Linked DNA regions of Homo sapiens: regions 1, 2 and 4 are each linked to region 3. The links come from fine-mapping of genetic effects on gene expression. A gene starts in region 3. Each other region holds a variant in brackets. All regions are shown on one strand. Distances are from middle to middle.

Region 1 (5,328 bases), 31 kb after region 3:
GAGCCATGATCACGCCATTGCACTCCAGCCCGGGTGACAGAGTGAGACCTTGCCTCTAAGAAAAAAAAAAAGTGTATTTCTTATTCTATGTCCAAGTGTCCATTATGCAGGGTAACCTTAGTCATGAAATGAGATTGATAAAGAATGTAGTTGATGTAGCATCGTGGGGTGAAAAAGTACATTTGTAGATAGGAAATTCTGATTATGACTTTTTTTAAAGGAATGTCCTATATCCTAGATATCTCTAGGAAGGAGTTGATAGATCTTTGACTGTGTACCTTTGAATAAATCAAACAGACTTCCTCCCACACGCTAGAGCTCAGACAGCCTTCTATTTGTTATTTCCTATTAAGCAATACAAAGGATTCTGATGTAATTAGGCTCTGTCTTTCTTAAAATGGTTATAGTTTAAATAGACCTCTGTGAGTGTACTGCTCTTTCTACAGTCAGGGTCATTAACAAATATGCTACCAGGTGACTGCCTCTGAGTTCAGAGACTGAACTATGTCATTACAGAGCCACCTGTTAATCATTTTCTTTTTCCTTTCCTCAGATCATTGCTTTTGTCCTGGAAGGAAAAAGATCTAAAGTCACCCGGCGGCCAAAGGCCAGTGACTACCAACGTTTGGACCAGAAGGTAAGGAAGGAGGAGCCAGGTCCATGGGAGGGATAGGAGGGATAGGCAACGTCAGATGGACCCAGTAGTGGGCTTGCATTTGCCATGAAGCAGCAGTGGCTGATTCTGGGGATGCGGTTGCTGTTGCTGTTGCATTCGCCCTTTTTAGACAACAAACTAGAAACATCTAGATACACATATCTGTGACGTTAGAGCTAGCAGAGACCTTGGAATACTCTACAGCAGCTACCTCCCTTCACAGATGAGGAAATAGGCCCACGCAGAAACACTCTTTTTTTTTTTTTTCCGCTAAGTTTCTACTGCAAGTTAGTGGCAAACTCAGGACCTGATAGCAACTCCCTAGTCTCCCAGTCCTGAGCTTTCTGCATTCTGCCAGCGCTCCATAAACTTTAATAGGCATTTGAATCACCTTGGGGAATTTTGATAAAAAGCATTATCTGATTCATTAGATGTGGGGTGGAGCCTATATTTCTACATTCTTTTTTTTTTTTTTGGAGATGGAGTTTTGCTCTTGTTGCCCAGGCTGGAGTACAATGGTGCAATCTCGGCTCACTACAACCTCTGCTGCCTGGGTTCAAGCGATTCTTCTGCCTCAGCCTCCCGAGTAGCTAGGATTACAGGCGCCACCACCACGTCCAGCTAATTTTGTATTTTTAGTAGAGATGGGTTTCTCCATGTTGGTCAGGCTGGTCTCGAACTCCCAACCTCAGGTGATCCGCCCGCCTCGACCTCCCAAAGTGCTGAGATTACAGGCATAAGCCACCGTGCCTGGCCTGTGTCTACATTCTTAGGAAGTTCCCAGGTGAAACCAAATGCCACTGGATCCACACTTTGTGTGGTAAAGTGCTAGACTGTGCTCCCTGGAAACACGAGCCTGGAAGCACATAGGCCTCCAACTCCCCACATCAGCCTGGCTTAAGCACCGTAGGCTGGAGTTCCTGAGTACAGCCAATCCATTCCTCTGTCAGACAGATAAGCCCTCCTTCCACCCCATGGCAGCAGAGCTAAGCAAGGGTCTCTCTAAAGACAACCTGTCTAAGCAGGAAGACTGTACTCTCACTGCGTTGCTACCAGCATGCACCCTTCCTTCTGCTTTCAGCATAGCAACAGCCAGGACATTGGCAAAGAACCATTGGTGGCCCAACTATGAATTGTTCCCAGACTTCCTGCAGGGAACACGATTCTCTTGCACAACTCAATATTAGCTACAGAACGAGCCACTGAGCTCAGAATATCTTTGCTAACTAGTCCAGTAGGCTAGCTTTACAATTTAGCTCTGGACTACTGCCTTTTCAGATAATTGACTTTAAGGGTTTTCCCCCTTTTATGATTTTTGTTTGTTTGTTTTTGAGACGGAGTCTTGCTGTGTCGTCCAGGCTGGAGTGCAGTGGCACAATCTTGGCTCACTGCAACCTCCACCACCCGGGTTCAAGCAGTTCTCCCTCTTCAGCCTCCCGAGTAGGTGGGATTACAGGCGCCCACCACCACGCCCAGCTAATTTTTAGATTTTTAGTAGAGATGGGGTTTCACCCTTTTGGCCAGGCTGGTCTTGAACTGCTGACCTCAAATGATCCACCCACCTCAGCCTCCCAGAGTGCTGGGATTACAGGCGTGAGCCACCACACATGGCTTATGATTTTTAAAAAAATACACATGTGGCTGGGCATAGTGGTTCACGCCTGTAATCCCAACAGTTTGGGAGGCAGATCACCTGAGGTCAGGAGTTCTAGATCAGTCTGGCCAACATGGTGAAATACCATCTCTACTAAAAATACAAAAATTAGCTGGGCATGGTAATCCCAGCTACTACTGAGGAAGCCGAGGTGGGAGAATCGCTTGAACTTCGGAGGCAGAGGTTGCAGTGAGCCAAGATCATGCCACTGCACTCCAGCCTGGGCAACAGAGCAAGACTCCGTCTCAAAAAAGAAGAAAACCACCACCAACAAAAAACACATGTAAATAATTCACAACAGTACAGAACAGTATGAAGCAGAAGCCAGGATTCCTCTCTCTCCATCAAGTGTATATCTTTCTAGTGTTAGGTTTCATTTCAAACTTTAAAAATCATTTTGTGTGCTATTTTAATTAATTGCTGTTTCTGTGGTGGTGGGTCAGTATGTCTTAATTCTGAATGTTTTCCCTGCACCTCCTAAAAGATCTTTT[T/C]TCCCCTAAGTCCTAACAGAATGGTATATTCCTCTGGAAAAAGATGAACGTCACCAATGGATTGTGCTGCTCTCGTTTCAGCTTTGATTTTTTTGTCCTTGAGAACCTTGTCCTCCCTGCTGATTTGTTTCTAAATCAAAAGAAATGAAGAAAAAAGTACTGTGACCTGAGAGACACCCTCCTCTAGAATTTAGTGGCGGGTCTGGGCTGGCAGAGGTAGGGGGCTGCTTTGGGCTTTGCACCTGCACTTTGGTGACATTGTTCTTCTGTGTTCCCTTTATTTATGCTGGTGGCTTCCATCCGTTCCTCCTCTGAGGGTGAGTGGAGGGGTATATGGAAACACGGCTATGACCAAAGGGAGATCCCAGCCTGGGCAGGCTGCGCTGCTGACCACCCTCCCTGGGGCCCGGGCTCTGTAGGAAAGTTGGTCCTTGACTGTGGCATTGCACTCTGCACTGTTTCTCTCTGCAGACCTAGGGGAAAACTGCAGGTGGAAGTGCTTTTCTACTAAGGCCTCTTACTTTGGGGGGGATGTGCCCTACAGAAGACATAGAAGATGGGGAAATGCCAATGGGCAAAGAGCTACTTTGAATACATAATTCTCTTCAAAGACTTCAGCAGCAAACCAAAACAGCAGGTTAAAAAAAAAGATGCTTTTTTGGGTGCAAGTCTAACCTGTCTAGCATGAGATCTTCTTGATTTTCTGATTATTTTATGTAGCTTGAGACAAAGTGAATCAACTTCCACTTAGTTGTACCGAGCATAAAACAGAACTTGGGCTTCCTGGCAGTGAGGCCACTGTCCCATCACAGATTTTTAAAATAAATATGATTTGAAGTAGTGTGATCTTTCACACAATCATACTCAGTAGGAACTTTTTGAAATAGGGCAAGTTTATGTTTCATGCGAGAAAACATGAAGGAGGGTTTTGGTTTTGGTCTGCAGTTTTTCCAAAGGGCTTTTATGAGATACATTTCCCACAAAGTCCATTTTGCCTTTGTTGCCTAAAACAGACAAAATAGACTTAGATTTATTAATAGAAACTATACTCTCTGCCAATTTTACCTCAGTGTATTTAATGGTCCTTTAATCTGATATAAGATGCCAAGGGTATTTGATAAAAATTCTTCTTCCATGCCATGTCAGGAGTTAATACAAATGAAGAAATTCCGTGGGTTCCCCTGGGATAAGTGAGGGTAGTGTCTTGGACAACACTATTGTTTGAAGGTTTATCTTTTCTAATCATGCTCTACCGCATTGTAGAGAGCCTAAAGAGAGTTGTTTCTGAGCTGATCTCAGGGAAATACAAATAACTTGGGAGATGAGGGAAATAAGATGAATTCTGTGCTGTCAAGGCAGTAAGTCTGAAGAAAGGACCATGCTTCTTATATTATCTTCCACCTTGCTTAAAACAGCCCATAGCTTTGAGTTGACATTTTCATTCTTGGCGGATAGCCTACTTTATGAAGGTAAGGAATGAACTCCTACCCTTCTTGGGTCATTCTCTGTACTGATGCGTTAGTCTTATAATACTTTGCACCAACCTGAGGAATCTTCTAGGCTTCTCTAGCATCCCCTAAGACTGTGGCTATTTCACGTCTCTCTCCCTGCCTGCCTTCCTTTTCCCTTCCTTTCCCCTCCTCATGTTTTCTGGTTGTGCCCATCTGTACCAGCTCCTTTCCATCCACCTTCGTATGCACCCAGATTTTTCTGTTCCCATCTGTCCTATTTGTTATTCATCCCGCTGCTCAACTTCTCCAGTATGTTGCTTCCCTTAAGTTGCCATTCATTCTCTTCATGACTTTTACTAACTCACTTCGGTCTCTGTCTGTCAACTAAACTTTTCTAAAGGTTACCAGTTATCCAATCACCAAATCCATGGCTTTTTCTCAAAGCTTAGTCTTGTCCTTGGCAGAACTGGACACTATTGACCATCCAAATGGAAATTCCCCTTTCTTGGTGTCTCTGACAAATGGTCCTTTGCCTTATCTTGTGCTGGTGGTGAAGAGGCCCTCAAAGCCAGGCCTCTCTATTCCTTTGACTGTCTCCTCAGCCATTAACCCATTCTTCATCCTCGGAGTGAGTGATTCCCAAGTCTTTGTCTTGGCTTAATCCCTAAAGAACCCAGTTCTGCTGGTATCGAATAGTTCAGCTTGGTTGTCATTGAAAGGAATTTCTCTCTTCTGTCCATCAGCCTGTCCCTCCCAACTGTCTAGGACAGTCTTCGGTCACCTAAATTCCTAACTGCAGACTTTTGCCCTTTTTCTCTCTCATCACCAAAGTCCCATCCATTTTTTTTTAATAAAAGATCCTCAGCTACAGTCTTTCCATTTTCCTTGCTTCTCTTATTGCACACCCCCAGCCCATTTTGCTTCTCTCTTGGATTTTGTTTTTTCAGATCCACATTTATTGGGTTTCCTGTCCAGCTTCTTGGAAAGGAGCTCACTCTTGGAAAGACTGATCTTTCCAAAATATTTTCCCTGGTCTGAAGCTTTGGTGTGAACTTCTCAAGGCTTAGAGAATCCAGT
Region 2 (5,198 bases), 60 kb after region 3:
CTTTGCAAGTAGGACAGGATTTGTCATTCTTGGGATAAGCCTTTCCTTACCCAAACTCTTCTTTTCCCACTGTTTGCTGGCATTAAGGGTGGCAAAAGACAGCCCTAAGGTTACCTTTATTTTTGTTCCTTTGGCATTTGCCTTTTTTTCTCTTCTGCATGGGTGCTTGAAGGAAAACATTTCTAAACCCTTGCAATTTGAACTGTTTTTAGGATATGTCTAGGTGAATGTCAATTTTCATTGAGTTTTATAGAATTCAAAGGAGCTCTTTCAATCCATAAATTCAAGTTTTTGTTTTTAGAGCCCATTTTAACTTTCTTAATTGCCTCTTTTCCTTCAGTTTGGTCTCTTCTTTAGAAACACTATTTGTAGAATGGTTTTTAATTTTTTTTCTCTGTATCTATCAGCGACTTTCTCATCACAGTTACAAATGGCACAAATGTGACTTGCCACAATGTCAACTCCAGTCTATACAAAGACGAATGGGCTGGGAGACATGAGTAAGAATTTCAAAGACGCTGAAGCTCAACAGCAGAAATGAACAGAAGGAACGATGCAGGTGGAAAACCATCACTGCCTGCTAAAACTAGTGGGTGAAAAATTGATGAGAAATAGGGCATTGGCATAGCCTTGGAGCCTCTCCCTACAAAACACTTATTAATTACAAAGGGAAAAATTGTTACCCTAGGGTGGAAACGTTTGTCAGATACCACCTAATCCAAACAGTTGATGCTAACATCACTAATACTGGGACAAAGGCAGACTGTAGGGCTACCTCCTGAAATGAGGTAACGAGGATGCAACTTTAGTGCAGTGACATTCTGGCCAAAAATGCACAATCTGAATCTAACCATGACGAAACATCAGACAAACCCAAACTAAGGGACATTCTACAAAACAGCTGGCCTGTACTTCTCAAAAAATGTGAAGGTCAAGAAAGACAAAGACAGGCTAAGGACCTCTGCTGGATTCGAGGGAACTAAAGAGACATGAGGGCTACATGTAATCCATGATGCCAGGTGGAACCTGGGACCAGGAGAAACACATGGGCTATCATGGACATTATTGGGACACGGCCAAAAGTTCAATCTATATTGTGAGTAAGATAATGACATGAAAAGTTAATGTTACTGGCTGGGTATGATGGCTCAAGCCTATGGTCCCAGCATTTTGGGAGGCCGAGGCAGGTGGATCATTTGAGGTCAGGAGTTTGAGACCAGCCTGGCCAACATGGCGAAATCCTGTGTCAACTAAAAATACAAAAATTAGCTGGGCGTGGTGGTGGGCACCTGTAATCCCAGCTACTCAGGAGGCTGAGGCAGGAGAATCACTTGAACCCAGGAGGCGGAGGCTGCAGTGAGCCGAGATCGTGCCGCTGCACTCCAGCCTGGGCGACAGAACGAGACGGTCTCAAAAAAAAAAAAAAAAAAAAAAGTAAATGTTACTTTCTTCATTTTGAGGACTGTACTGTGATTATTTAAGAGAATGCCTTTGTTCTTAGATAATATAGCTAAAATATTTAAGGGTAAAGGGTCACAATGTTTCCAAGTTACTCTCAAACTTTTCAGAAAAGAAAAAACAGAGAGAGAGAGAGAGAAAGAGAAGCACAAAGCCCAGGGGAAAAATGTGTGAATCTGGATAAAGGTTATATGGGAGTTCCTTGTATTATTCTTGAAACTTTTCTGGGAGTTAAAATAATACCCAAAAGTGGCCAGGCACGGTGGCTCATGCCTGTAATCCCAGCACTTTGGGAGGCCGAGGCGGGCAGATCACCTGAGGTCGGGAGTTCGAGACCAGCCTGACCAACATGGAGAAACCCTGTTTCTACTAAAAATACAAAATTAGCCGGGCATGCGGGCACATGCCTGTAATCCCAGCTACTAGGGAGGCTGAGACAGGAGAATCGCTTGAACCTGGGAGGCAAAGGTTGCGGTGAGCCAAGATCGCGTCATTGCACTCCAGCCTGGGTGACAAGAGCAATACTCCGTCTCAAAAAACAAAACAAAGCAAAACAAAACAAAAGTTATTACTGTGTATTAAGAATTACAATCAGTATTGAGGGTAGTACAGAGCACCAACAGGATATGCTATGGGTTTTGGAGTTTTCTGCATCTACACAGGTATACTGGTAAGAAGATGGAGAAGTTATGTAGAATTTTATTTAAAAAAATTTTTTTTTTCAGACAGGGTCTCAGTCACCCAGGCTGGAGTGCAGTGGCCTGATCATGGCTCACTGCAGCTTCAACTTCCTGGGCTCAAGCAATCCTCCTACCTCAGCCTCCCGAGTAGCTGGGACTGCAGGTATGTGCCACCATGCCCGGCTAATTTTTTTTATTTTTAGTAAAGGTGAGGTCGCACTATGTTGCCCAGGCTGGTCCCGAACTCCTGAGCTCAAGTGATCCTCCCACCTCAGATTCCCAAAGTGCTGGGATTACAGGTGTGAGTCACCGTGCCTGGCTGTATGTACAGTTGTAAAAGGGAAATTCCAATGAATATTTTTGAGAATTGGCATGTTAAGCAGCGTCAGGTTTCTCAGCTCAAAGCTGGGGCAGAGCTATTGATGTTCTTTCAGAGAGCATCCAGCACTGGCTCAGCAATCAATAATTTGACATGAAACTCTCCAGTTTGCTTCTGAGAGTGACCCAATTTGCAATGCTAAAACTGGGTGTTTACCATTACTAGTGCAGACAATGTCCCTATGCCAGTGGTTCTCAAAGCTCAGTCCCCAGACCAGCAGCATAAGCATCACCTGGAAACTTGTTAGAATGCAAATTCTCAGGCTCGACCTACCGCGACCCACTGAATCAAACTCTGCAAAGTGTGATTCACCCAGAGTTGAAATCATCCAGAGAGCTTTTAAAATTCCCAATGCTCGGCCAGGCGTGGTGGCTCACGCCTGTAATCCCAGCACTTTGGGAGGCCGAGGCGGGCACGTCACAAGGTCAGGAGATCGAGACTGTCCTGGCTAACATGGTGAAACCCCGTCTTTACTAAAAACACAAAAAATTAGCCGGGCGTGGTGGCGGGTGCCTGTAGTCCCAGCTACTCAGGAGGCTGAGGCAGGCGAATGGCGTGAATCCGGGAAGTGGAGCTTGCAGTGAGCCAAGAT[C/T]GTGCCACTGCACTCCAGCCTGGGCGACAGAGGGAGACCCCATCTCAAAAAAAAAAAAAAAAAAAAAAAAAAAATCCCAGTGTTCAGGCCACACCTAAATTCCATCAGAAACTCTAGGGGTGGGGTTCAGCAATCTTTGTTTTAACAAGTTCCCCAGATGACTCCGATGCCTGCTCAAGAGACCCACCAACCGGATGATAAGGAAGATGCTGCCAGTGTCTAAACAGTATTGGTAGGGTCCTTCTAATACTGAGAAGACGACAACCAAGAGAAATTCTAATTTTGATCCTACTGAAGATGCTAAACTCTGACAGGAAGTACTTGGACACGAGACTGTTAACACTTGCAATAATTTATTTCTGTTTAGAGTATGTTCTACATTCTTGAATCTCAAATGCTAAACAAGATCAATAGGTCAGGATGTAGCCATGTGTTTGCTTTTACTATTTATTTATAATTCTCTTTCCTTCCCTTGCCCCATCAGTATTAGACTTGCCCCTACGTATTAGTCTGTTCTTGCATTGCTATAAAGAAATACCTGAGACTGGGTAATTTATAAAGAAAAGAGGTTTAATTGGCTCACAGTTAAGCAGGCTGTACAGAAAGCATGATGCTGGCACCTGCTCGGCTCCTGGGGAGGCCTCAGGAAACTTTTAATCATGGAGAAAGGTGAAGGGAAGCAGGCGCATCTTACTTGGTGGAGGAGGAACAAGACAGAAAGAGTGGGGGGAGGTCCTGCACACTTTTAAATGACCAGATCTTATAAAAACTTGCTCGCCATCACAAGAATGGCACCAGGAGATGGTGCTAAACCATTCATGAAGGACCACTCCCGTGATTCAGTCACCTTCCACCAGGCCCTACCTCTAACATTGGGGATTACAGTTAGACACAAGATTTGGGTGGGGATACAGATCCACACCATATCACCTTATGACTTGCTCTGACCAATGGAATATTAGTGGACATGAAATGAAGTGAAAGGAAGCTTTCAATCTGCTTCCCTTCTTTTGTATCTGCCACATGCCATGAGAAGGACATGACCTGGATAGCCACTGGTCCTGGGATAAGAGCCATGTGGAGAAGACCTGAACCTCCCCCTTAACAAGCTAAAACAGCCACTCCAAGTGACCCACAGGTCCATCAGTGGAAAAAGAAATGTTTACTAATGTAAGCCACTGAATTGTTTGTTACACAGCATTATGAAAGAAATAGTTGACTTGGGCTGGGTGTGGTGGCTCATGCCTGTATTCCCAGCACTTTGGGAGGCTAAGGCAGCCAGATTGGGTGAGCCCAGGAGTTTGAGACCAGCCTGGCAAACATGCCGAAACCCCGTCTCTATAAGAAATACAAAAAATTAGCTGGGCATGATGGTGCACACCTGTGGTTCCAGCTACTTGGGAGGCTGAGGTGGGAGGATCACTTGAGCCCAGGAGGTGGAGGTTGAAGTGAGCCAAGATTGTGCCACTGCACTCCAGCCTGGGTGACAGAGCAAGACCCTGTCTTAAAAAACAAAAAGAGAGAAATAGCTAACTTAAGACATAAAGTCTACAAAAATATTTTTTGAGAAATACAGAAAAGTATAAAGAATGATACCACACCCAAAACCTGCCATGTGGGATTGTTTTTATAGCTTTTAAATTTTGTTCTTTTTTTCTTAAATAAAACATCACAGAAAGTTAAATCCTCTTAAACACTCCACCAGTCTTATGCTCCTCCCCACTTCCCAAAGGCAGCTACCATTGAAATGTTCCCATTCTCCCTTAAAAATACATATGACCGGCCGGGCGCGGTGGCTCACGCCTGTAATCCCAGCACTTTGGGAGGCCGAGGCGGGCGGATCACGAGGTCAGGAGATCGAGACCATCCCGGCTAAAACGGTGAAACCCCGTCTCTACTAAAAATACAAAAAATTAGCCGGGCGTAGTGGCGGGCGCCTGTAGTCCCAGCTACTTGGGAGGCTGAGGCGGGAGAATGGCGTGAACCCGGGAGGCGGAGCTTGCAGTGAGCCGAGATCGTGCCACTGCACTCCAGCCTGGGCGACAGAGCGAGACTCCGTCTCAAAAAAAAAAAAAAAAAAAAAAAAAAA
Region 3 (5,315 bases):
TGCAACCTCCGCCTCCCGGGTTCAAGCGATTCTCCTGTCCCAGTCTCCCGAGTAGCTGGAATTACAGGCGTGCGCCACCACACCCTGCTAATTTTTGTATTTTTAGTAGAGATGGGGTTTCACTATGTTGGTTAGGCTGGTCTTGAACTCCTGACCTCGTGATCCGCCTGCCTCGGCCTTCCAAAGTGCTGGGATTACAGGCATGAGCCAACACGCTCGGCCTGTTGACAAAATTTAAGCAGCTGTGAATTTATTCTGAATGAACAACTTGCCTCAGCCAAATGCTTACCTCTTACTACCCAAGCCACAGGATGGCCAAAAGGGGACCACACAGGGGACTGTGAGCTGGATTCTGTGTCCAAAAGGCAGCAGCACCACTAGAAGGGATGGGGTCTGTTTCTGACAATGGAGTTACTGGGACCTGGGCCAGCTTATCAAAGGCGTGAGGCTAAAGGTGTCACCTTGGTGGGTGGTCTTAGCTGAAGTGCTCAGGCTTTGTTTAGGCCTCACACACAGGCTGGGTCAGGGGCTTATAATACTAGACCTGGTTCCAACAATGGTAGAAATTCAAAATGCAACACGATGTTCTAACCTTTCTCAGTTATCAGCAATACTGTGCATGTGGCAGCTGGCTAGCCAGTTTGGGCAATTCTAAGTCTTTCATCTGACATTGCTTCCCTCAGGAAAAGGGCTGGACAAGGCTCATACCTCATCACAGGGGAATTGGACATCCGGAATGTCTGTCACATCAAAAATTGCATCCTAAGTGGGCAGATGGCCCACACACAACTGACAATCATAGTTCACAACTTTGGGTGACTAAGGAAGGAGGGTAGCCTCTCTATGAGGTCAGCCCTCCAGGATGCCATAAAAACTGGCTGCTGGTGTCAGGATGCTTTGATTATTAACACTGAGAGGAAGAATACCTCCTGGCTCTTGGGCTTGACATGTGGCTCACTGTAATCCGGGGGACAGGGCAATGCCCCCTTAGTCCTGGCACCCCAGGAACTAAACTGCTCTCACTGTGGCCTCTGGGGCCTCAACATCTGCCTCCCCTTTCCTTTTCCTCCATCATGGCCTCCATGACAGCCTATGACAAAACACACATTGGCCAGCCTTGGCAAGGTGACAGGCGGGTATGGTAATAGCAATCTCAGGAGGGCTCTTCTGTTGCTGTGTAGAAAATGAACCAAGTAGCATAGAATCGTGACCAGCTTTCCACACCTGGCTGGAGCACTCCTGGGGCCTTCAGTAGGGACAGTTACTATCTGTAGCAGAGAAGAAAAGAGCAACAATTCCATTAAACAAGGAAGTACTCAAAGGCAAATTCCTGATAGTTGGACCTAAGGAAACGGCCTTCCTGTAAAAATGGATCCTTCTCCAATCAAGTATTCATTATGCACCCTCTTTAGGCAAGGAGGGGGTATGATTCTTCAACTGCTTGCTGGAGGTTAGATTCTCTGCATAGGAATTTAAATTAGATGGGCCCTTAGCTGATCCTTTCACCATGCTTGTCCATGGGCGGCTCCCCGTCCCCCAGGTTCCCCACGGATGGGGTGTCATTAGGGACCCGCCATAGAGGACTCCGTCCCAGGCGGGCCCCCAGGACAAAACTATGGGCCACTTTGAGGGGCACAGAGACAGACGCTCACCGGTTGTGATGCGCAGGTAACAGAGAGCTCAATTCATCATGACAACCAGTCAGACAGGGGCTGTGAGCAGCCTTTGGACAGAACTTTCGCATAGCCTGGAGGCGTAAGACGAGGAAAGCAATTTAACACCTCAAGGCAGCGAGTCCAGGGCAGAGCCAGGACCAGAACTCAGGACTCCTGTCTCCCAGTCGGGATTCTCTTTCAGTCTTACAACTCTCGGCCTTGTCTCGCCCCATAGTGATAATTTCCACCGGATCACATTCTCCCTCCCTCCTCAGGCCGGCTGCTAGCTCCGCACAGGCACCAACCACTCCCCTTGGCAAGTGTTAACGCGTTCTCACCGTTAAAAGAGCTTTCCAAACTTGGGGGTCCCGCCGCCTCGGCTAGGCCTCATCTGCTCATGCGCACAGCCGCTTCCGTGCCGGCTCCCCTGGCCCCGAGAACTACATTTCCCAGTAGGCAATGGAAACCCAAAAGAAGTACGGAGAGCCGGGAGGGTCAATCATCACCTGAGAGTTGGCTCTTCGCTGGCTGGCTGGTTAATCAGTGCTCAAAGCTGCCTCCGCCTCCTGACTGGAGAGCGAACTAGCCCGGGCGGAGCCACAGTCCTAGAGGCTGAGCGCAGTCGGAGCTGTCCCATTTACCCGACCCGACGCCGGCGTGATGTGGCTTCCGCTGGTGCTGCTCCTGGCTGTGCTGCTGCTGGCCGTCCTCTGCAAAGTTTACTTGGGACTATTCTCTGGCAGCTCCCCGAATCCTTTCTCCGAAGATGTCAAACGGCCCCCAGCGCCCCTGGTAACTGACAAGGAGGCCAGGAAGAAGGTTCTCAAACAAGGTAGCAGGAGGGACCCTGGGGTCCGGGGCTGCACTCGAGGCTTTCTCACAGATTTGGGTTCTCATTTTGCCAAGGCAGCCGCTACCAGACGTGGGCCTTAGTTTCCCCATATGTAAAGTACTAGGAGGGCTTCCTTGCACGTGGAGGAGCCCCGCTTTAGTGTGCAACACTGTCGATAGCCTTTGCCCTAGTAGGCCCCGGGAATAGTAGTCCCAAGGGTGTGGTCATTGTCCTTGGTTTGCAAGGTGTTGGCACCCGCCCTGCCACTTGTAATCCCCGTGGCTCGTGGAACTGATAATCCCCGTGACTCATTCCTCCACTTGGTTCCAGGACCTTAACTTTTTCACCTACCCTCCCATGCGAGCTCAGGGGTGTGGGGGAGCAGCACAGAAATGCGTAGGAAATTGCGTTTTGCCCGTCCGGTGATTTAACAGGCTTTGCATGGTCCCAAATCGTAAGGATTGAACCCTAGTTCTGAAACATTGGCAGAGGTTCAACAAGGCGCCTCAGGCTCAGAGCCTGCTCTCCACTCTCATCTTTAAAACATATTTTGTGGTTGCTTCTAGAGTTTAAAGAGTTCTGCTGCTTTAAAAAATAATGGATCACCTGTTTGATCTACGGAGTCCCTCTCACTTGTAAATTTTAGAATTCTCCGTGTCATATCTTGCTACACAATCGGAGACAGTACTGTTCTAAGTGGAAGGACTAATCATCTGGACTTCTGAGAACTGAGTTTTAGCTTGGACTCTGTCACTAATTTGCTGCATAACCATTAGCACCTACCTGGGCTGGTCTAAAAATGAGATGACTAGCTTAACTGCTTTTCAAACCGGATTGTGATCTATTAGTGGGCTATGAAATCAATTTAGTGAGTTGCAACTGGCATTATTTATTTATTTATTGAAACAGAGTCTCGCTCTATTGTCCATGCTAGAGTGCAGTGGCGCGATCTCCGCTCACCGCAACTTCCGCCTCCTGGGTTCAAGTGATTATCCTGCCTCAGCCTCCCGAGTAGTGGGCATGCCCAGCTAATTTTTGTATTTTTAGTAGAGACAGGGTTTCACCATGTTGTCAAGGCTCTCGAACTCCTGGCCTCAAGCGATCCGCCCACCTCGGCCTCCCAAAGTGTTGGGATTACAGGCGTGAGCCATCACGCCTGGCCACAACTAGTATTTTAGAATGCAGTAGAATAGAAAATATCAGAGTGCATTATACATAGTTCCACTAAGTATTGCATTGTGACACTTGTTTCATGTATTTATCTTATATACTTACATGTGAAATTTTTTTTTACTATTGATCTCTCTAAAAACATTAAAAAAATAAGCAGTTTGCCAAGTTCTCTTGTATCTTGAAACATCCCAGATCTCAGTTCTTTGCCAGTGATTGTTAAAGAACAGATCTTGTGTCGGAAGTACCCATATAGCACCACTTGCTATCCAGTTTTGTCTTCTGAGAAGGTGCTGCCTCCCTCAGCACTGCCCCCAGACCTTCCCTATGGGAGGGGCTGGTGCTGTGATTTCTCAGAGCTGCAGCCTCTGAGCAGTTCTGTCCTGCCCAAGCCTTTTCATCAGGACCTGGAAGAGCCACCATAAGACCCAGCTATTCCACTATTGCTTGCAGACCCTGCATCTTCCAAAGAAACCCGGCTTGTGGGCTGGTGTGTTGGCTCATGCCTGTAATCCCAGCAATTTGGGAGGCCGAGGTGGGTGGATCACTTGAGGCCAGGAGTTCAAGATCAGCCTGGGCAACATAGCAAGACTTTGGCTCTATAAAACATAAAATAGGCGGGGCGCGGTGGCTCATGCATGTAATCCCAGCACTTTGGGAGGCCGAGGCAGGCGGATCACGAGGTCAGGAGATCGAGACCATCCTGGCTAACATGGTGAAACCCCATCTCTACTAAAAAATATTAAAAAAAAAAATTAGCCGGGCGTGGTGGTGGGCACCTGTAGTCCCAGCTACTCGGGAGGCTGAAGCAGGAGAATGATGTGAACCCAGGAGGCGGAGCTTGCAGTAAGCGGAGATTGCGCCACTGCACTCCAGCCTGGGTGACAGAGTGAGACTCCGTCTTAAAAAATAATTAAACACATAAAAATAAAAATAAAAATAAAATGGCCCGGCATGGTGGCATGCACCTGTAGTCCCAGCTACTCGGGAACCAGAGGCAGGAGGATTGCTTGAGGCCAGGAGTTCAAGGCTGCAGTGAGCTGTGATCACATCACTGCACTTCATCCTGGGCCATAGTGAGACCTTGTCTCAAAAAACAAATAAGCAAAACCCCAAATCTGCCTGGCTGGTTCTGAGTATTCCCAGGTAAAATGTTTGAAACATGTTAGTCAAGAGTTCTGTGCCAAACCACTCTAGAGGTTTCTTGCACTGTACAAGCTAGAGAAGTCTTCTTTGGTTTCCCTATCTTTGCTATTTCCCTGCCCCTGCCTGAGAAACCCACCCTTTGGCCCTTCTGCTGTAGCTTTTTCAGCCAACCAAGTGCCGGAGAAGCTGGATGTGGTGGTAATTGGCAGTGGCTTTGGGGGCCTGGCTGCAGCTGCAATTCTAGCTAAAGCTGGCAAGCGAGTCCTGGTGCTGGAACAACATACCAAGGCAGGGGGCTGCTGTCATACCTTTGGAAAGAATGGCCTTGAATTTGACACAGGTAAGGCTTGTGTGGAAAAGGGTTGGGAGCATGGCTGTATGTTGAAGAGGCTTGGAGCAGCCCTTGTGGGGTGATACTGAGCATTTCTGTTGTTTTGGAAGTGCCATCTTCTCTCTGGGTACTTTTTTTCTTTGTTTGTTTCAGACAGAGTCTCACTTCATCACCCAGGCTG
Region 4 (5,328 bases), 46 kb after region 3:
CTCTGCCCAGCTGAACTGTATACTTTAAATGGGTGAAGTGTAACTTTAAATGGCTGAAGTATATCTCCATAAAGCTGTTACAAAAAATTAATTGTGGTGCTAGATACTATGGAAAGTATCCAAAAGATGCTTCCTCACATCTTGGCAATTACGAGTCAAATGGGTGATAGAAGCATAAGCTGAATGTCATTCCAGGCGGCAAATTCATTTAAATCAGCTGTGAAAATGATTACCCCCTTTGCAGCTCAGTCATGGACACTGACTGGCCCATGCACATTTGAGACAGGAAGCTGGGTTCAGGTTTTCTAAGGGTGTCAGGCATGCCTAACATTCCCCTGTGGCAAGTGGCAATCTTCCTTTGCATATCTGCGAAAGTCTAACACAGGGTTTGGGAGTGAAACAAACAGGTGGTTTGATTCAACAAAAGCACTAAAGAAACACTCAGAAAAGGTCTTGCAACTGCAATTTTATTTTCTTTTGTGAAAATAAACAACTGGGAGTTTAAATTGCTCCAAAAACCATAAAAACAAAAAGAAATACACACAGAAGAAGCATGTGAGGTGATGGGGAAGGGAACAGGGTCTCTAGAACTTTGGCAGATTGTGCTGGCACGGACCCAGGTGACAGGAGCCAGACCATGGGGCCGGTCCCGCCTGCCACTCTGGGATTGTGAAGGGATGATCGCCACTGGCAAGGACGGGGAGGAACACAGACTTCTTCGCTGAGGAAGTGGCAGGCACCTTGAGTCCCTTTAAATGCGGGGGTTGGGAGGAAACCATTTCAGAGGACCGCTTTCTCCACTGAAAGCTGGGGCTGGCGAGTTCGGGCCCACTGAGGGAGGGGACGCTGGTGGCAGCAAATCAGGCCAAGATGTCTTCTCACATGGTGATGGCCTCACACTGGGCAGAGGACAGAGGACGAAGAAGAACCCACGGTATTGAGCAGACGATGAAAACTTGGGCTGGGTAACAGGAAATGTCACAATGGCAGAGCTGCAGATGGAGTCGGGGAAGCTGGGGCAGGCGGCAGGGGCGAGAAGAGACAGGAGACAGAAAGTGCAAGAGAGGTAAGAGAGAGAAGTGCCCTCTGCCCAGGTCCATCCACCACAGCACCTACAGGACGAATAGCACGCTACTTTTCAGTTCTCTTTCTTATAAAGATTTTTTTTTGTTGTTTTGTTTTGTTTTTTAAAAAAGCCTTAAGATCAGCTACTGGTTACATCTACAAACTGTAAAGTGCTGTTGTTACCAGCCACTTTACAGAACAGTCCAGAGTGGTCAAATATTGACCAATAAAGTCTCCTTTTTCTTTTTCTTCTGAATCATTACTACTCAATGAGTCATGTGACAGCCTGCAGGGGTCGGGGGGAGCTTAGTGGGCAGACTTGGTGACCAGGGAAAGAGGCTGGGCCTGTAGCACCGGGAGGGCCTGGTGGGCATGGAGCGTGGCGGGGAAGGACGGGGGAGAGGCCAGCAGAGCTGTGGGCATGGACCCAAGGGGGAGGGGCCGGGACAGGAGGGGAGGCTGGCTGCCCATCTGCCCAGAGGAGGAGGCTGCAGCCTTAGCCGACAGGAAGGCGGCAGAGTGGAGAGCCAGCTGGGCCCGGGTTTCTGGTTTGGTGGTGAGGGAGAGGGGCTGGGCTTGCTCCGAATGGGTGGCAGCAGGGGCAGCTGGTGAGGCCAAAGCTGCAGAGGGAGTGGCCGGGGAGTCCAGCATGCTCCCGTGGGAGGAGGCAGGGCTGTCACAGGGCTTCTCGGGGGGCAGGTACTGAACACATGGCTTCTTGCTCTTGGAGGCCAGGGCACCTAGGGGGAAAATACAAGAAAGAGTGAGCAGCTATAGCTCTGTGAGAGGAGGAGGCTGAGGAACAGCCCTGGCGATACATGTGCTTTGGAGACACAGGGATGATTTTGGCGAGGACCTGACATTACTTCCAAGGCTTTCAAGACTAGGAAACTGCATTCACAAATACCCAGAGCACAGAGAAGAGGCAACGCCCAAACTGATGAAGATCCACCCAGCATCAGATCGGAGAGAAGACGGCTCAGTGTCTCACAGGACCACCCTCCTTTCCTAAAGCTGGTAACTTTTGGGATGAATCTCCAGTTTGCTTTGAAATCTTTGGTTTATGGTATTAATACAGTCAGAGAGAGTGCATGCCTGCTGAACAGCGTGCCAGACAGCGGGTTCTGTAGCAGGTACGGGTTCCACTCATGTGCGCTCCTATGTATAATGGAAGGAAGGAAGGAAGGGAGGAGGGGAGGCAAGGAAATAGGGAGGGAGGGAAGGAGAAAGGGAGGGCGGAAGGAGAAAGCGAGGGAAGAAGAAAGGGAGGGGGGGAAGGGAGGGAAGGAGGGGGAGAGGGAGGGAAAGAGAGGGAGGGAAAGAGAAAGGGAGGGAGAAAAGGAGGGAGGGAAGGGGAAAGGGAGGGAAGGAGAATGGGAGGGAAGGTGAAAGGGAGGGAGGAAGAAAGGGAGGGAGGGAGGAATGAAGAAGAGAGATTGAAAGCACTTTACATCGTGCAAGCAGCGATACACTTGTCCTGGAGTGAGCATGAGATGGGGGGCGTGACCTAAATATTAATAATAATCGTCACAGTGTGAGCATCTTTCTGTGCTAGGCATGATTCTGGTAAT[A/G]TAGAGATTTTATACATGGTTTTGACACAAAGTGCCTCCTAAACCCAAGCAAACTAATTTTTTCTGGTGTTCAACCAAAGAAACATCCAAGGAAACCCGGGCTCCCCTGGATCCACTGACAGGTGGGATGTCAGGGGCTCATGTGCTGCCTTCCTAAGGGTATTTCAAAGACAATTTCAACCTCATTCCATTAACCCTCAGGTAGGATGATTCACTTTTCAATGGAATTAGATTGTCTAGGCTTTGAAGTGACAAAGTCCTGGGATCAAATCCTACCACCACCACTGAAGCAGAGTGCCTGGGAAAATGCCTTCACATCTCAGAGCCTCTTAAGTGGCCACCTCGAGAAAGGGGTAATAATACCCGCCCGCGAATACCGAGGCAGAAGCCCTGACCCATCAGGGAGCTAGAGACAGCATGGGCAGGTGTGGCTGTGACAAAAGGAAAAGCAGGAGAAGAGGCCAGTGCCCCGAGACGCACCCTCTGCCTCCTGGACTTGCTGCTGTGACTGTGTCTGGGACAGCTGCTTTTCTCTCTTCCTCTTCTTTTTCTTACCCTGGAAAATACAGCCAAAGGAAGAGGTAAGCTGGGAGAGAAGAATGCTGGCTTCTCAGGGGCTCCCAGATCAGAGAGAAGACAGGACGTTGCCCTTTACTGCTCTCGATCCCTCAGGGAGAGTGTGGAGAGATAATTCAGATCACAGCCGTGGGAGCCCGTGAGGAGGCAGAGGGAGCCCTTCCTCCCCTACAAACGCGTTTCCCCTCCAGGTCGGGTGTCCAGGCCTTCTTGGAAGGCCTCCTCCCTCCACTGCCCTTCAGACTCTGTTTTTCTGTTTCTCTCCCTAGAACAGTGCTTCTAGATCTTTTCTGAGGGGTCCCAGGTCCCTTTGAAAGTTTGATGCAACTGTGGGTCCTCTTACCAGAAAAAAAGCAAAGAAGAACACGCATGCGAAAATTGGCTTGGTTTCCGGGAGCTTAGAGACACGCCCCCTGAGGCTCACACACTGGTCTTTGAGCCCTGGGTTAGGAGTGGCTGGAGACAACTCTTCCTACCACAGCTAACCCCGTGCCCTGTGTTATGAAATCGAGGGCAGAGTCCAGTTCAAAGGGAAATGCATCAACTGAAGTCCGTCCTCAGGACTTGTTGACCTCCTGAGAATTAAAACACCTTCCTTATTTCTAGAGAAGTATGGGCTTCTCCCTGATCTTAAGAGTCCTCTATAAATGCAGTCGCTGGCCGGGCGCGGTGGCTCACGCCTGTAATCCCAGCGCTTTGGGAGGCCGAGGTGGGCGGATCACGAGGTCAGGAGCTCGAGACCATCCTGGTTAACACAGTGAAACCCCGTCTCTACTAAAAATACAAAAAATTAGCCGGGTGTGGTGGCAGGTGCCTGTAGTCCCAGCTACTCGGGAGGCTGAGACAGGAGAATGGTGTGAACCGGGGAGGCGGAGCTTGCAGTGAGCCGAGATCGCGCCACTGCATGCACTCCAGCCTGGGTGACAGGGTGAGCCTCTGTCTCAAAAAATAAAAGAAAATAAAATAAATAAAAATAAATGCAGTTGCTTTCCTTCACCCTTCCTCCTCTTGCAGAGGCTGTTCCTGGGGTCTGAGCGTCCTCTGCCCAGAGTGTGCACTTACATAGTTGTCCCGGGCTGACCAGGTTGGGTAGAGCTGCGAGTGAAGCTGCCGCTCCTTCCGGGCCAGCTCGTAGTACTTGGCCTGTTCTTCTCGAGACAGGTTGTGCCACTGGGGGAGAGAGGGTCAGAGACCACACGGAGCCATCAATGCAGGGACGCTGCCTCCCTGGCCTGGAGGGAGAGGGCAGGTCTTACCTTTCTTCCAAGGATCTGGTTAATGGCTGCACTTTCCTTCAGGGTGCACTCAGCCACCACCTTGGCCCTCATCTCCTTCATATACAACATGAAGGCATTCAGAGGCTTCTTCACGTGGGGCTTCTTTTCCTCCTCCTTTTTCACGGTGACTGGTGATTTCCTGGGAAGGCACGTGGTTGTAGGTTAGCATGTCAGGTGTCACACAACTCATCAATCCCCACCTGTCACTGAAACACCGCTGATTGTCTCTGGGGAGGGGCGCGGGCTGCCTGGATGCTAATTCAAGTGGCCCCATGGCTGCACTCAACACCTGAGTACCTTCCTCCCGTAGTTTCCCACCTTTGAACGATCTCCACGCCAGATTCTTTGAAAATCTACTCTCCAATTTCCTGACAGAGGAACAGAGCATGGTGGGGTTGCTGAGATGAGCTCTCACTGGAGCTGGCAGGTGCTGGCGGCGGTGACAGGACACAGTGTGGGGCACTCTGGGCAGAACCAAGTTGGGAGGGGGTTCTCTTGGGATCTCCAGGGAGCACTGACTTTGGCTTCCTGCCATCTTTATGGTACACGGGCAAGGTAAGGACCCTGGTGCTCATCTCAGCTCGGCCACCAGCCCACCACAAGTCCTTAAGAAAACACTGTCTCCTTTCTGGGCCTCACCTTTTCATATATCTTACGGTGGGGTGTTAAAAGCTTTCTCAGGTTCTCTTTCAGCCTCTGAGACCTGACAGTAAAACTTTCCTTAATAAGAGAGAAGATGCACCATGTCCCTGAAAGGACAGGGACCCAGAAGGTCAGAGGGAGTAAGTCCCGAGGAAGAGGGAGGGCCTGGCTGGGGAGGCTGTGATGCCTGCTGAGTG

What was found.
Region 1: its variant is fine-mapped to the expression of RETSAT in whole blood (INTERVAL, PIP 0.95).
Region 2: its variant is fine-mapped to the expression of RETSAT in whole blood (TOPMed, PIP above 0.99).
Region 4: its variant is fine-mapped to the expression of RETSAT in whole blood (TOPMed, PIP above 0.99).

The regions. Positions count from the first base shown.
Region 1 is chr2:85,320,224-85,325,551 of GRCh38, reverse strand. TGOLN2 (trans-golgi network protein 2) reads left to right here. Exons shown (of 4, transcript NM_006464.4): 3 at 554-637; 4 at 2,811-5,328. The coding sequence ends at 2,816. Among named protein-coding and RNA genes, the nearest start is that of TGOLN2, 5.1 kb to the left of the region's middle. The variant T/C (reference allele first, on the strand shown) is at 2,801.
Region 2 is chr2:85,292,012-85,297,209 of GRCh38, reverse strand. The region is part of intron 4 of TCF7L1 (transcription factor 7 like 1); the gene reads right to left. Among named protein-coding and RNA genes, the nearest start is that of TGOLN2, 33 kb to the left of the region's middle. RefSeq lists an enhancer at 2,160-2,831. The variant C/T (reference allele first, on the strand shown) is at 3,110.
Region 3 is chr2:85,351,508-85,356,822 of GRCh38, reverse strand. It overlaps RETSAT (retinol saturase), which reads left to right and starts at 2,295. Exons shown (of 11, transcript NM_017750.4): 1 at 2,295-2,487; 2 at 4,961-5,143. The coding sequence starts at 2,316. It overlaps ELMOD3 (ELMO domain containing 3), which reads right to left and starts at 2,054. Exons shown (of 14, transcript NM_001135022.2): 1 at 1,994-2,054; 2 at 1,653-1,747; 3 at 1,225-1,268. RefSeq lists enhancers at 1,598-1,657, 1,292-1,791, 1,828-2,227, 1,792-2,293.
Region 4 is chr2:85,305,506-85,310,833 of GRCh38, reverse strand. TCF7L1 (transcription factor 7 like 1) reads right to left here. Exons shown (of 12, transcript NM_031283.3): 9 at 4,469-4,628; 10 at 4,275-4,382; 11 at 3,117-3,192; 12 at 447-1,805. The coding sequence ends at 1,372. Among named protein-coding and RNA genes, the nearest start is that of TGOLN2, 20 kb to the left of the region's middle. RefSeq lists enhancers at 315-1,198, 4,121-4,621. The variant A/G (reference allele first, on the strand shown) is at 2,637.